Regions from separate parts of the Homo sapiens genome. Here region 2 is linked to region 1. The links come from fine-mapping of genetic effects on gene expression. Tissue or cell type: lung. Region 1 holds a variant in brackets; the other region holds the start of a gene. All regions are shown on one strand. Distances are between the middles of the regions.

The links. PIP is the estimated chance that this variant, and not a neighbour inherited with it, causes the effect.
Region 2: it holds the start of SLCO2A1, and the variant in region 1 is fine-mapped to the expression of SLCO2A1 in lung (TOPMed, PIP above 0.99).

Annotation. Positions count from the first base shown.
Region 1 is chr3:134,809,859-134,817,858 of GRCh38, forward strand. The region is part of intron 1 of EPHB1 (EPH receptor B1); the gene reads left to right. Among named protein-coding and RNA genes, the nearest start is that of EPHB1, 19 kb to the left of the region's middle. The variant G/C (reference allele first, on the strand shown) is at 3,515.
Region 2 is chr3:134,025,671-134,033,809 of GRCh38, forward strand. It overlaps SLCO2A1 (solute carrier organic anion transporter family member 2A1), which reads right to left and starts at 4,255. Exons shown (of 14, transcript NM_005630.3): 1 at 4,037-4,255. The coding sequence starts at 4,132. RefSeq lists an enhancer at 4,250-4,750.

The DNA of each region.
Region 1 (8,000 bases):
CATTGGAAGAGAGTCCTGTCTTTGGACAGGCAGCGAATTAGGTCCATTTAATGGATGTGGCAGCTGAGGTTCACTAAGGAGGAATGACTACCACAAGATCAGGCAGGCAATTGGAACATGCCAAGGAGAGATGAGAGCTCAGGGCACTGCTGCTTCCTAGTCCTTGCTCACATACTGCATCCTGCTAAGAGAGACCCATTTGTCAACTATTGTGAGCTTTCAACATAATGGAAGTTTTAACATAGGTATGTGACTCTGTTGATCTGAGGTCCTAGGAGATAAATCTTCTCACCTAACCAGAGCACAAGAGTAACTGCCCAAGTGAGTATGCAAATATGTATATCACCTGGTTTCTCTGGTTTTTGGCAATTAACATTCTTTCCATTCACGGGCTTGAAGCGTGGGTAGCACAGGAGGAGTGTGTGTGTGTGTGTGTGTGTGTGTGTGTGTGTATTTATGCAGATGATGTAGACAGACAGTGACACTGGACCATTTAGCAAATTAGAATATTCTGCCCTGAGTAGGTGGTGCTGCTTCTTTAACAGCACCAGGCCTCCACCACCAGGGCTCACTGGCATAGAACAGCCTGGCAAATGGAAGACGCTATTCAGGAAAGGACAATGAGAACAACGCTCATTCTACAGGAGGACTGACCTTTGCAACTCCCACTTCACGTTGTTATTAAATATCTGGGAAAAGACTGAGAGAACAATTATAGTATTGTCATAATGTATCAGCGTACAAAGCAAGTGTTTCCAAGGAGGCTCTGGTTCAGCTGAGCTTGACAAAGCCGGGGACTCAGCTATAGCACTTACTAATTTAGAAGTTGTCTTCATTACTTACACCAGCTGAAAACTCCGAATGTTTTGGGTGCAGTTCTGCCATCGTGGACTCCAGATAGGAATGGAAAGATAAGATGTTGGGAGCAAAGGGTGGGAGTCTTTGGGTTTCTATGTGTCTCTCTGCTAGGCTTGAGTGTGCAGTCCTAGTTGCAGCCATCTCTCTCTATATATTTAGCCTAAGCCTAGCAGGGTACTGGTTCTCAGGGGTCCTCCTGAGTATTTGCTGAGTTGAGTTGGGTTAAAGACTTTCATAGGAGGGAGAGTGAGCGACTGCTTTTCCCCAGAAGGGGAGTCCCATAAAGGACTGTGAGGGCTCGTGTGGCCCCTCCCCCTTTCCCACATTCCCAGCTGATCTCTCACTTCCCACCTAGACATGCCCACAACACCCTCTGCACAGGTTAGCCTCCCAGGTGAGAATTCCACTCTCAGGTCTGGGGGCTGGGGCTGTGGTGTCCAGGTTCTCACTATCACAGAGTTCTTGCAGCTAAACCAGCATTTCTCAACCTTATTCCTTATTCTCATAGTTGCCCCTACTAAGAAGGTTTTTTTTTTTTTTTTTTTTTCTGTCTTGCTCTGTCCCCAGGCTGGAGTGCAATGGTGCGATCTCAGCTCACCGCAAACTCTGCCTCCCAAGTTCAAGCAATCCTCCGGCTTCAGCCTCCCGAGTAGCTGGAATTATAGGCGAGCACCACCATGGCTGGCTAATTTTTGTATTTTTAGTAGAGACGGGGTTTCACCATGTTGGCCAGGCTGGTCTTGAACTCCTGACCTCAGGTGATCCACCTGCCTCTGCCTTCCAAAGTGCTGGGATTACAGGCATAAGCCAATGCGCCCGGCCTAAGAAGCCTTTTTAAGACTTTTTTTTTTTCCTGACCACCCCACACCCTGTGAATGTTAATAGCACAGATATTGTGGACATCTGTTCATGTACTGAGGCCCTTTGGTGGGCCACAAACCGTTATAAGATCTAAGACTTTTTAGTCTTCCTCCTTGCCAGGAATCAGTTTTCACCTTTGCTGAGAATGCATGATCTAAACACAATAAACCTGGCAGCGACTTAGTGGGCCCTCAGCCGAGTTAGAGCTCAGCTTTGCACCATCTATCTTTTCCAAATCAGTTTTACCCAGTATGGCCCTAAACAGTCGGAAAGGATGTCCACCTTAGCTGGTCCAGGAGGCCCCCTATTGAGCAGGTATTAGCCCTGCTGTTGGATATCCTAGGGAGATCCAGAAGGACCCAGATAAGGACGAGAGCACAGGAGTAACTCAGAAGCCTTGGGCAGGAGTGACTTGCCAGTAGGTGTGGAAGCATTTCAGGATTTTAACAAGTACGGACGGCTATGCCAGTGCCTACTCGCTGAATGTCTGCCCTGACTTCAAGGGATGTGAAAATAGTTACTTGAGTTGGGGTCCATTTTTGGAAAAAAAATAGGCTTTCTTGAAGCATAATTTACATATAATAGGTTTTAGATGTACAATTCCGTGAGGTTTCACAAATGAGTGTGGTCATGTAGCCACCCTACACACCTGATGTAGATCGTTCTCATCACCCTCATGTCCCTTCATGGTCATGTGCCTCCCTTCACTGCTGACCCTTGGCAACCACTGATAAAATTTCTGGTTCTATTGTTTTGCTTTTCTAAAAGCTCATAGAAATGGAATCATAGAGTATGTGCTCTTTATTTGTTTGACTTCTTTCACTTAGCATGAGTATTTGAGATTCATCCATTTTGTGGCATGTGTTATACTTTCTTTTTATTGCTGAGTAGCATTCCATTGCATAGATATCTCACAATTGGTTTATCCATTTCACAGTTGGTGGACATTTGCTTATAGTTTTTGGCTTTTATAATTAAAGCTACTGTGAATATTTGAGTACATGTCTTTATGTGAACACAAAATGAAAAATAGGTGTTCATTTTGTTTGGGGAAATACCTGGATAATATGGTAAGTGTAAGGTTAACTTGGTAAGATACTGCCAGTCTGTTTTCCAAAGTGGCTGAAGTGTCTTGCATTTCCTCCAGCAGTGTATGAGACCCCCAGTTGTTCCACATCCTCACCAGCAGTTGGTATTTTCAGTCTTTAAATTTTAACCACCCTGGTGGGTGTCTCATGGCATCTCATTGTTTGTTTTCGTTTGCATTTCCCTGATGTGTCTTTCATGTGTTTATTAGCCACTCATATATATTCTCCGATGAAATGGATGTTTAGATATTTGTCCATTTTTTTTGTTGGGTTTTCTGTTTTGGGTCTGCTTTCAACATGGACGGTTGTCTGGAGGTGACAGAGTGACCCCACTCACACTATTTCCAGACAATTTGGGTTGCCCTGTTGTGCCGAGAAGACATAATTTGTACCTGTGCTGGGTGGGTCTCATTCCTGGAAGTGGGGAAGAGTGGGCCATGATCTTCTCAACATGGATGGTGGTTTATGATCAGGGAAGAAATATGCCCCCAAACAGGGGCCAGGACCTCAGAAAGTGGGCTTTTGTTAGGGGAGTGTGTGCGCCTCAGCAGGAAGCCATAATTCACATGACCTGGGATTGTGCTACTCTGTGTTTATTTCCCATACATTCCCTCCAGTTCCAATCTCATCTCCATCACACTGCTCAGTAGAAAGGAAGGGCATTCTCCTGCCTCTACTTGGCATTGCAGGAGCAGCTGTACCTCCAT[G/C]GTGGTGGCAGCAGAAATCAGCTAGAAATTCCCAAGGGTCCTGCTTCTCCAGGGACAGGTATCTTTTGGTTTGGGGCTTTCTTTTAGAGAAGAAAAGTATAATTTTTCTGCACAGATTGTCCTGTGAATGGTGGTCTGAAACCATGCAGAGGAAGCACCCCCTAGCCCAGCCCTGGACTCTCAGGACTGGGCCCATTTGATAGGACACTGTGAGTGTCCGAGGCTGTTCATCACCTTTTTCTCAGCTGCTCTGACTCCCAAGAGGTTTCCAGCTTTTCTGGTTCTTGTTGCATTCAAGCCATAGAGAATGCCTTTGGCTCATTTCTTAGCTTTCAATGACAGTCTCAGGATTCTACAGGCTTTCCAACACTGGGGATGATGTAGGCACTTCAGCCATGTTTGCTGTTATTTGCATGATGACAATCAGTGATCACAGTAATCATGGGGGAGGTGACACATGACAAGGATGCAAAGGCTGCAGTGGTACCATCAGGGCCCATCAGCTGGGCCCTGTGTCACTTCCCACAAGCACCTTTTATGCTCAAAAGCAAAGATGCAGCTGATGCTGACGCTGCATCACTTCTGGCTCTGAGAAAAGCAGGCACCCCCACTGTCTGAGACTCCCTGAGGGCCCCCAGAGTCTACCCCGGGGCCTGGCACAGAGTAGGCACTTAGTAAATGATGGATGGATGGACTGAACTCCTGTCACACTGCCCAGGATCACTCAGGGAGAGGCTGATGCGCATGCCACCGTGGCAAGAAAACCAGGGACTTGTGGCAAACAGAAGCAATGGAAGCATAGGAAACCTGAATGTCTGGTTGTGGAGATCAGACTGATATACCTGTTGCTGGATGGAGATACCTGAAGATGGTTCAGGCAAGGAATCTGTCATTGAAGAGACTTTTTGCTAGGGTATACTTATGGATAAGCTGGGCCTTGAACATGTAGAGGGGAGAGTGATGAGGATGCATATCATGAGTGAGAAGTAGCAGAAGCAGAAGCAAGGAGAAGGGAAAGAAAAGGTACCTGAAATAGCAATTACATTCAAGTAAGTGCTCCGTGATATAGCCAGGGGCTCGGTGATGTAGGAGGTCAGGGGACAGTTAGTTTAGAGTGGGCTATGGTAACCAGGATGGCTTCCTGGAGGAGGAGGTACCTATTGAAGGTATAGTGGATTGATGCTGATAGAAAAGGCAGGGCATAGGAATTCTCTTCTCAACAGGCTTCCCTGTCCTGGGCCAGAATCATCCGAAATGGGGAACCTGCAGAAAAGCCTTCTTCAGTGACTTGTGCCTCTCTGTCTTGGACTTCCTGGCTCTAGAAAGCCCAGGAGGAGTTCCTGTGAGGGAAGGCTCTGCATCTTGTTGCGTCCCAAGTCCCAGGGTCCAGTTGCCATTGCAGACGAAGCTTCATTCAGAGGAAAGCAAGTGCATCTTGTGGTGGTCTGGACCAGCTCTTCACAGACGGTCTTCTTTGGTGTCACCACTCGGTGTGTGGCCTTTGGGCCAGGGCTTGGGTTCCCATGGGAGTTTGTTAGAAATGCAGACCCTCAGACCTCACCTCAAAACAACTAAATTCAGTTGTGCCTGGATCGAGAGTCCCAGTCTCTAAACTTCTGCATCAGGGAAGCAGCCTCTTTAAATAAATTAACAAGCTTATTTTGAGCAATTTTTAAAAAGAGCTATCCTAGATTAAAGAATACTTAAGATTCATGACAAGTTAATGTAACAAACCCTATACTAAGAAATTGCTTTAAAGGATATGATTTGGACAACAAACAAAATTGGAATATAGCCTTCCAAAATTCAGGGAGTGGGTCTCCTTAGATGAAAGTATTATAACAAAATGTTAATATTTCCAAATTTGTAACTGCATTGTGGTCAAATAAGAGAATATTCTTGTTCTTAGGAAACAAATATTGAGGAATTAAGGAGTAAATGGCCATGATGTATGCTACCTGCTCTCAGGTGGCTCAAGGAGGAAAATAAACAGATGAATGTGTGTATATAATATAATAAATGTGTATATAATAAAATATATATGTAATATCATATTATGATATATCCTATTGTACCATAAAATATATGTGGTGAGGAAAGAGAAGATGAAAAAGCAAATGTGGCAAAATGTTAAAAATTGGTGAATCAGGGTAAAAGGAATATGGGGGTTTCTGGTTCCATTCATGCAACTTTCTTGTGTGATTGCTATTTCTTTAAAATAAAAAGTTTAAGAAAACAGTGCGCCTTGTTTCAAAGTTTGATGGATGTTGCAAGTTGCCCTCTAAAAAGGCTGAACCAATTTATATTCCCACAATGCTGTGGAGGGTTGGTGCAGCTGTTTAATGTAGCTATTTTTATTCAGCTATTTTGATGCCAGGGACTTTCTTTGATGGGGTCATATATCAGTTTTGACCTGGGGACATTTTGTTGTTTTCCAAATTTATTATGAATATTTCCAAAAGTATAGAAAAGTCAAAAGTATGCTGAAGTGAACACCCATGCCACAGCCCCTGCCCCTAGTTTCAACAGTTGTTGTTATTGTGCCATATTTATTTATCAGCACACATTTGTTTTTTGGGGGGCATGGAAATTGGGATGCAGAAAGATTAAGTAACCACCAAAGGTAAATGCTGGGGCCACACGCCGTGTCCTCTGCACGTTGTCCTTCTGCCTCTGAGGTACTTTTTTTCTTTTTTCTTTTTCTGTTTCTGTTTTTTTTTTTTTTTTTGAGACAGAGTCTTGCTCTGTCACCCAGGCTGGAGTGCAATGGTGTGATCTCGGCTCACTGCAATCTCCACGTCTTGGGTTCAAGCGATTCTCATGCCTCAGCCTCCCGAGTAGCTGGGATTATAGGCACACACCACCACAGCCAGCTAATTTTTTTGTTTTTTTTGTATTTTTAGTAGAGACGGGGTTTCACCATGTTGGCCAGGCTGGTTTCGAACTCCTGACCTCAAATGCTCCGCCCACCTCGCCTCCCAAAGTGCTGGGATTACAGGTGTGAGCCACCGTGCCTGGCTGGATTTTTTTCCTGAAGCAGTTGAGTGTTGGATTCAGACAGGTCTGGATTTGAATTCCACCTCTGACACTGAACAAACTACATAACCTCCCAGTTATGGCCTCTGTGTGTTCGTCCCGTAAGTGGGGATGGTGGTACTCACCTCACATGATCGTTGTGAGATAGATGAGATAAGGTGTTTAAAGCCCGTGGTAGTTATTAGTATTGTCATTTCTTCTGTATCTCTCTTTTCATTTGAAACAGATTCCCAGGCACCCTCCTCTGGGAAAATTGATCCCTAAATCATTCTTCTGCTTGCCAATACCTTGTCTGGCCCATCTATTGCTGGTGTGTAGTCCTTGCCTACTCCCATAGACTTGGAGGGCCAATGTTCTAAGCAGCTTAGAAAAGCTGATATTCAGGCACGTGTGCTGGGGCGATGTTCAGTAACCTGACATGACGTATCATGGCCAAGAGTCGCAGGCGTCTCAGTGGTTAGGCAGCAGGGCTTCCTGGGGCACTCACCCTCAGTGTGAGCAGGTCTGGACGAATTCCTAGCAGACCCAGCAGAGCAAGGAAAGGGCCTGTGGACCACTGCTGCCTTCTCTGCCGTCTCCAGGACTTCCTCCCATCTCACCAGGATTCCAGTTTGTGGGAAAAGGGAGGAACAGGGACTAGGGTAAGAAGAAGGAGGCAGCCACTTGGAGCAAAGTTTAAGGGGGCACTAAAGATTAATCAAGGTAAGTAATATATGAATGTAGTTTTTTTTTTAAATCAAATTCTGTAAACCATGGACTATGGGCTGCCTGTTTTTGTAAATAAAAATAAAGTTTGAAGGCCCCAGTCAGCCCATTCCCCTCTCTGTGGCCCCAGGAATTGGGGGGCACTGGACAGTGTACTCACTGACATTTTCTCTCCTCTGTAGAACAATGTCAGTATTGCCTGCAATTCTAGTCGTCACAGCTCCTTCACCGTTTAGAGGGCCGGGTGCCATGGCTCACCCAGCACCTGGTTCTCAGGCTTCTGGCCAGCGTGGCAGAGCTGAGGCCATGTGGAGGGCTGGAAGTGGGTGGCACACTTCCCTGTCCTGGCAGAGGAGTGCACATGGAGCTCTGTAGTTTCTGTCCCCACCGTGGCCTTAGACCTGAAGGTATGAATCCATGCAAGAGGCTGCTATTGGGAGTCAGAGAACTGGCTCACATTTACCAGCTGCGTGACCTTGGAAAGCCACCTAATCTCTCTGAAGTTTCATTCTCAGTTTCATTACCTGTCCATTGGGGATGATGTGGTCCAACCTCTTTCTCTTTGAGCTCTTCAGTAAGAGGTTGTTGAGTAGGAATCAGAGCCCATGTATGGGAAATGCTTTGTAAACTGGGATGTGCTCTGGAAACACAAGCTGTTCTTATAATGGTGGTTACGATTGATTCTGGTGGACAGCTCCTGGCCCAAGCCTGGTGGAATGGTCATCCATAGAGGGAAATGAGATCC
Region 2 (8,139 bases), 780 kb before region 1:
GAAAAAGATCCAGTCCACCTTCAGAAAGGAAAAAATGGCCCTTCCTGTACTAAGGGACAATGTAACCCCTTAGAGCTAGTAATAACCAATCCCCTTGATCCTCGCTGGAAAAAAGAGGAGCGTGTGACCTTAGGAATCAATGGGGCTGGACTGGATCCTCGAGTAAATATCTTGGTTTGAAGAGAAGTTTACAAACGCTCTCCTAAGCCAGTGTTTCAAACTTTCTATGATGAACTAAATGTGCCAGTACCAGAAATTCCAGGAAAAACAAGAAATTTGTTTTTGCAATTAGCTGAGCATGTTCTCTCAATGTCACTTCATGTTATGTATGTGGAGGAACTGTAATAAGAGATCAATGACCATGGGAAGCCCGAGAATTAGTACCTACAGACCCAGTTCCTGATGAATTCCCAGCTCAGAAGAATCACCCTGATAATTTCTAGGTCCTAAAAGCCTCAATTATTGGACAATATTGCATAGCTAGAGAAGGAAAAGAATTTACTCACCCCATAGGACGACTTCTTTGTCTAGGACAGAAACTTATAATGGTATCACAAAAACAGTCATTTGGTGGAGTTCTAATCACACAGAGAGAAATCCATTTAGTAAATTCCCAAAGTTGCAAACCGTGTGGACCCACCCGGAGTCCCACCGGGACTAGACAGCCCCCACTGGATTATACTAGATACGTAGGCATAGAGCTTACGCCAAATTACCTGACCAGTAGGCAGGTAGTTTTGTTATTGGCACTATTAAACCATCTTTTTCCTACTGCCCATAAAAACAGGCGAACTCCTGGGCTTCCCTGTCTATGCTTCCCGCGAAAAGAGAAGCATAGCTATAGGAAATTGAAAAAATGATAAATGGCCCCCTGAGAAAATCATACAATATTATAGGCCTGCTAGGCACAAGACGGCTTGTGAGGATACCAGACCCCCATTTACGTGATCAACTGAATCATACGGTTACAAGCTGTCTTAAAAATAATCACTAATAAAACCGGCAGAGCCTTGACTATTCTGGCCCAGCAAGAAACTCAGATGAGAAATGCTACCTATCAAAATAGATTAGCTCTTGACTACTTGCTAGCAGCTGAAGGAGAGGTCTGTAGGAAATTTAACCTTTCTAATTGCTGCCTACATATAGATAATCAAGGGCAAGTAGTTGAAGACACAGTTAAGAGATATGACAAAACTGGCACATGTGCCTGTGCAAGTGTGGCATGGATTTGATCCTGGGGCCATGTTTAGAAAATGGTTCCCAGCGCTAAGAGAATTTAAAACTCTAATAATAAGAGTTATAATAGTAATAGGAACCTGCTTACTGCTCCCTTGTTTGCTACCTATACTTCTTCAAATGATAAAAAGCTTCATCGCTACCTTAGTTCACCAAAAAGGTTCAGCACAAGTGTACTATATGAATCACTATCGATCTGTCTTGCAAGAAGACACAGGTAGTAAAAATGAAAGTGAGAACTCCCACTATTGAGTGAGAATCTCAAAGGAGGGGAATAAGGGAGGAGACCACCCCTCATATTGTCTTATGCCCAATTTCTGCCTCCAAAGAAAGAAAAAGTAAAAACTAAAAGGCAGAAATGAAATCCACAAGCAGACAGCCCGGAGCCGCACCCTAGCGCTGGTAGTTAAAGATCGACCCCTGACCTAATCGGTTATGTTATCTATAGATTACAGACATTGTACAGAAAAGCACTGTGAAAATCCCTATTCTGTTTTGTTCCGATCTAATTACTGGTGCATGCAGCCCCCAGTCACGTACCCACTGTTTGCTCAATCGATCACGACCCTCTCAGGTGCACCCCCTTAGAGTTGTGAGCCCTTAAAAAGGACAGGAATTGCTCACTCGGGGAGCTCAGCTCTTGAGACAGCAGTCTTGCTGATGCCCCCGGCTGAATAAACCCCTTCCTTCTTTAACTCAGTGTCTGAGGAGTTTTGTCTGTGGCTCGTCCTGCTACACCACCATGTCATACATGTCCCAAGATATGTGCAACCCATCCCCCACTGCAAAGTGGCAGGGCTATTACAAGCACTCTCATTGGGAGGAAATATCCCTTCAAATAGCAGAGCTCCCAGTTATTGCCCCAGGAGGGAAAGGTGCAAGTGACTTTAACTGATGGAATTTGAGATTCAAGATTTACCTTAAGCTATCCAACCTCGTACCTGGTTTCAGGCTGATAAGTGGAGTTAAATGGAAGTCCTCCAAACTCTGGTCTTGCAATTAGTATGGATCAAAGGAGGTGATGACTAACAGAATCTCATTTTTAGAGTCAAGAAAAACTCTTAGCCAGTATGAGTACTTAACTCCTTTAGGAGGCCAATTGGCCTGAGCCCAGCCCTCAGGTACGTGTGGTTAAATCATCAACACATGAGAAATCATCTTATTTATATAGATCTCCAAATAAATTGCTGCCATAAACATTTATTTTAGGGAACCAGGGTGGGTCTAAACGGATCAGTCTCATTCAGCTGTACCCTCACTGTCAGGAATCTGTTCTGGACACCCGTCCCTCCTGCCCTTCTTGGTGAAAATGAAGTGAGGTTGCCCCACCCTGGTTCCTGCAGAGGCCCCTTTCTTTACACCATCTAATCCTAGTCCCTACCCTTTCATCTCAATTCCTAATTTATAAATACCAAAGGTTCCAAAATTCCTGATGAAATTTCTCCAAAATGGTGGAACCAAAACTGCGCACAACATTTCCATCCAGGTCTGGCCAAAAATGAGGAGATTTGGAGATTATTTTAAGCTATCTCAAAATTTCTGTTGCTTATCCATATACAACTACAAAATCAATTCAGCCTGTATTTATTGCGGTGCGGAAAGAGCAGAAGCAGGAGTGGAGATCCCAGCTGAGTAAGTATGCAGGTGAGATCCACTCTGACCTCCAGATCCCTTTCTGTTGGACACATATAACCAGTCCACGGACACCCCCATCATCCCTTTGTGTAATCTGGCTTCCCCTTAATTGCACCACCGGAGGCTTTACTCAGTCCCATCTGACTGTATGTTTGTGGGAAACAACCTCTCTACACCATGATCCCACCCTGACCAGAAGGGGCCTTGATGCAGTCTCTGCAGTCTCCCACATCCTCACCGCAGCAGCTTTGGCCTCTCAGGAGGTATCTTCCATTGTTACTTCTGCCTAGGCAGAACGGGCAAAAGAGCCCGAGTGCGGATTGAACCATTCCAGGTCCTCCTGGACCTGTGAGGGAGTGGAAAGCATTTCCGACCCCATGGGAAAGGTGCTCTCATCCTAACAGCTGCCAACACCCTATCTTCTCACCCGCTCCCCATAACTTGCCTGGTGAGTGGACCTGCTTAGACCTTACTGAACCGTGAGAGCTGTGACCTTCCTGGGGCCATTTCCAGACCAGGGAAGCCAATCTGAGCACGCGGGTTGGTTGCCAGCCTGGGGAAGCCGCCCGCTGAGAGGGAATTCTAAACATAACTGCGAGCGGCACAGCCAGGTAGCAGAGCCCCCCGCCCCCGTTGGCGGGAGAAGAAAGCCTGGGGAAGGAGAACATCCCTTAGGCCACCCACCCCAGGACGAGGGGGCTCGGACGAGACACAGTCTGTCCCCCAAAGCGCGGGGGGTCCCCCTGGCACCTCCAAGCCCATCCCATTGACGAAGTAACCGCCCGCTGGAGGCCGAAAAAGCGTTCCTCGAGATGATCTTTTTCAATCATCGAGGACAATTCTCTCGCTTATAACTCTGCCTGGAGTTGTCCGAGTAAGCGGTAAGCAGGTACTTCCACTGTCCCATTACTTAGTCCGATGAAGGCGTGTGAACACACACACACACACTCGCACGCACACACACACGCTCACACACACACACGCTCACACACACACTCGCACACACACGCCCAGCACGCGTCGCCCGGGGATGAGATCGGAGCGCGGCACAGGAGGGAGCCCGGGGCTCCCGGAGCCTCCTGGCTCCGGCAGACAGAAGCGGGTGCCCAGCCGAAGGTGCGCCAGGCGCGGCTCCGGCCCGGAAGACCCCGCGGACTCCGCTCACCTTAATGTTGCCGAAGACCGAGCGGGCACAGCGGCCGGCTCGGCTAGTAGAGGTGTCGCTGCCCTGGGACGCGCCGAGCTTGGGCAGGAGCCCCATGGCTGCGGGCGGCTGGCCGGGCGCGGAGTGGCGCGGGGTCGGGGCGCCTCGGGCTGGAGCGGCCGGGCGGGTGAGAGGCGACCGCGGCGGCAGTGGCCGGAGGAGATTCGCGGAGCGGAGACTGAGCCAGCGAGTGCGCGCCTAGAAGTTTTTATAAGTGGCCGCCGCCGATGATGAAACGCGCTCTCCCTCCTCCCTCTTTTCCTCGGGTGTCAAAGGCGCTACGAGCCCCCGCCCCGCCGCCGCCGCCGCCGCCGCCCCCTCAGACAGGTGTGACGCCGCAGCGACCCGCGAGGCTTGACTGCCCCGAGAAGATCCCGCCTGCCGGGAGGCGGAGAGGGAGGGAAGGAGGTGGCGGGCCCGGGGAGGGGAGGTGAGGGCTGTGCGGGGGCAGGAGGTTGCAAGGGGGTGGAGGTTCCTGGGGACTGGCGAAGAGAGGGTGGGCGAAGCGAAGGTGGGTGAGTGGAGGGGATGGAGAAAGAGGTTGGCAGGGCTGGGGGGCAGGAAGGCTGGGATATGAGGGTGCCCGAGGCGGGCGCTGGAGGGGCCAACGTGAGCCGGGGGTGGAGGGGAGCCCCAGCACCCCTCCCGACGTTCTTGGGGAGATTTACGGAGCCAGTCTCTGCTTGTTTGCACTCGCAGAAAACCTGGGCCCTCAGTTCCGGTGATGGCTCTGAGACTCGCTGCAGCTCTGTTTGTGTTGAGGACTGATTTATATTTAAACTGCTCTTTGCGCTGGAGAGGGGGCTGGGTAACAAGGTGAAAAGGTGGGGGCTGGGCCCGAAGTCTCTGGACCTGAGCCAAGGTAAACTGCAGGGGCTGTCAAGTGTCAGCATGGCTGGGTCTGGCCTGGGGTGCTGGGGGGAGGGGTAGAGGGGGTGGGGGGGGTGTGGACAAACAGGACGCACCCCACTGACCTCCTTCTCAGTGCTGGAATGAATAGTGGGTTTATTTTTTCCCCAAGATTTTCTACTAACAGGATTCCAAGCGCCGAGAAGAGACAGTGAGGCTTCTCAAGGGAAGGATAAGAAGGTTCTTCCAAAAGCAGCTGCAGTGAGGAATCCAGCTCTGGAGGCATTTTTCCAGCTCCCTCACTTCTGTAGTCCCGTGCAGAGGGAACCTCTCCAAGCCCACCCCAAACCCAGGAAAAGATGCCGTCAATATCCAGGAGGCTTTGGCTAAGACAAAGGCCACAGGATAGATAGACCACATAGGCTTCTTATTCTACCCAAGACCTGATACCTTTCTGGGCCTGGTCTGGCCTGGCCTGGGCTTGGGGGCTTCTATCCACCTGCGACCCAAGTTCCCTGGACACGGCAGCATTCCAAAGATGTTGAACAGTGGGCAGCCTCTGGCCTCTTCACTCAGCCACAGAGCGAGGTACATCCTGACAGGCTTTCCACAGCACTGTAGCAGCCCCAGCCCCAGCCCCAGAGGAGGCATGAATTCCAGGTCCCATCTGTCCACTGGGAGAACATGGCACACAAGGACAGGTACCAGCATGGAGCACTTGGTGTGTGCTGGGCATACCAGGCCCTCTGCTGAGCACCCACATGCATGATTTCATGAAGCCCCAACGTTAGCCCTACAGGTATAGGTACTGATGGAGTCTGGACTCCACAAACAAGGATGCTAGAGCAGTCGGCTAAGAAAGCTGTCTGAAAGCCACACAGCTAGCAAGTGGTGGAGCTGGACCCTGAATTCAGCCTTGTCTGACTCCTAAGCCCAGACTTGAAGCACTATGCCTTCTGATAAGTTGTCTAGTCCAACAGCCCCATTTTGCAAGTTGAACCAAACAGGGACCAGAAAACCCCCAGGCCAAGGTCACAGACACCTTAGGGCTACCATGCCTGGAGCTTCTTTCTCAAACCCTGAGGCCTCACTGTGATCCTCTGGTAGAACCCCTGGGAGGATCAGCCTCTCCAGCCCTCACCTAGTCCTGTTCCATTAACCTGGCCCTCTGCCTCCCGTCAGCGCCAGCATCATCTCCAAAGGAAAAGCCTATTCAGAAATGCTCACAGATGCTTATCTTCCTTCATTGACCTTTACTGGGTGGAGTTCAGCTAAATGTAATGGAGAGCCAACCAAAATGACTTAAATGAGATTTATTTGTCTCTCAATAATTAGAAGTCTGCTAGTAGGTAGTCCAGGGGTCATGACCTAGGCCCTTCAAGATTCCTTAGCCTGTGGTTCCCATCCCTGTGGCTGGCTCATTGTCACAAGATGGCTGCTCCATCTCCAGCCTCCTCTCCTAATTCCAGGAAAGATGTGGAAGACAGGAAACAGGAAGGGGCCATGCTTACATCAAGGGAGCAAATCTCTCCCTTGCGTGCACAGTTGCTTTTACTTAAGTCTTCTTGGCCAAACCTGGGTCACATAGCTACCCCCTGCAAAGGATGCTAAGAAGTGTAATTAACACTATTGCTGTCCTCTGAACAAAATTGGGGTTTTATTAGGGAAAAAGGGAGAAATAATATTGTGTTTTACATTTTCAACACCTACACATGGAGTAACCCATTTCCTTTCAAGAGCACTCCTAGAGTCGGTCTCCCAGACTTTCCATCCTTAAATTTCAGTAAATATTTCCTAGCACTGAAAAAATACAAAAAATAGGCTGGGCACGGTGGCTCATGCCTCTAATCCCAGCACTTGAGGAGGCTGAGGCGGGCGGATCACTTGAGGTCAGGAGATTGAGACCATCCCGGCCAACATGGTGAAACCCCTTCTCTACTAAAAATACAAAATTAGCCAGGCATGGTGGCAGGTGTCTGTAGTCCCAGCTGCTTGGGAGGCTGAAGCAGGAGAATTGCTTGAACCTGGGAGGCAGAGGCTGCAGTGAGCCAAGGTCGTGCCAGTGCACTCCAGCCTGGGCTACAGAGCAAGACTCTGTCTCAAATAAATAAATAAATAAATAAATAAATAAATAAATAAATAAATAAATTTTAAAAAAAGCTAAACCACAAGAACATCTCCTGACCTCAAAGACTCTATGGTCTCAGGGTGGGAAACAAGAAGAGAAAGTGTGGCTGTGATGTAGGAAGAAAGCTATTGTGCACAGCTGCTATGGGAGCATAGAAGTGGAGCCCTAATGCACCTTGGACAGCAGGAAGACTTCTAGGAGGAGGCGACTGTCAAGCTGAGCCCTAAGAACTAGTAGGATTGAGAGGATTAGGGTAAAGAGGGTAAACCTACTCCATGGTTTCAGTCTGGCTGGAGCTCAAGACCAAGCGCAGTGGGTATGTGTGTGTGAAGCAAAGAGGCTGGGAGTTTAGGTTTTCTCCCCAGCACAATGGGGAGCCGTTAAAGGCTTCTAACCAAGGGTGACCTGGGCTAATTTGCATTTCACATGGACCTCTCTGGCAGCCAGAGTGGAATTAGGTAGTCTGTGGAAGGAATCCCAGGAGCTATGATAAAAGCTGGCATGGCAGCAGTGGGATGGTGGTAGGAAGGAGAGAAAAGCTTAAGAAATGTCAAAGCGAGGTGGCACCCACATATCAGTGAGAGGAGAGATGTTAGTGATGACTCCCAGGATCTGGCTTGGGCAACTAGCGTTGGTGATGCCCACTCCTGACAGAGGGGGCCCAGAAGGAGCAGTCACTATTGAAGGAAGCCAGTGAGTATCCTGGTCACATTTGAAATTCAAATTTCCCAGACTATACCCAAGTAAAGATCTTCAGGAGTCAGATGGGTATATGGGTCCAGCACTCAGGGTGGACACTGGGCTAGAGATATGGGCTTGGAAATCCCACGTGGAGGTGGTGGTTAAGCCTCAAGAAGGGATGAGTCTCCTAGGGAGACTGTGTTGATGAGAAGTAGGTCCAGGATGGGCCACAGCAATATCAAGGTGGCACAAGGGACGGAGCCAGAGTGGAGGAAAGTAAACCAGGGGAGGAGGTGTTGATAGAGCTGAGGGTACTCTTTCAAAATGGAGGAGGGCGGGCACATGGCCAGGCTGCTGGGGAGGCAAGAGAAGGCCTGAGGAGTGGCCACCAGGCTGGCAACGCTGG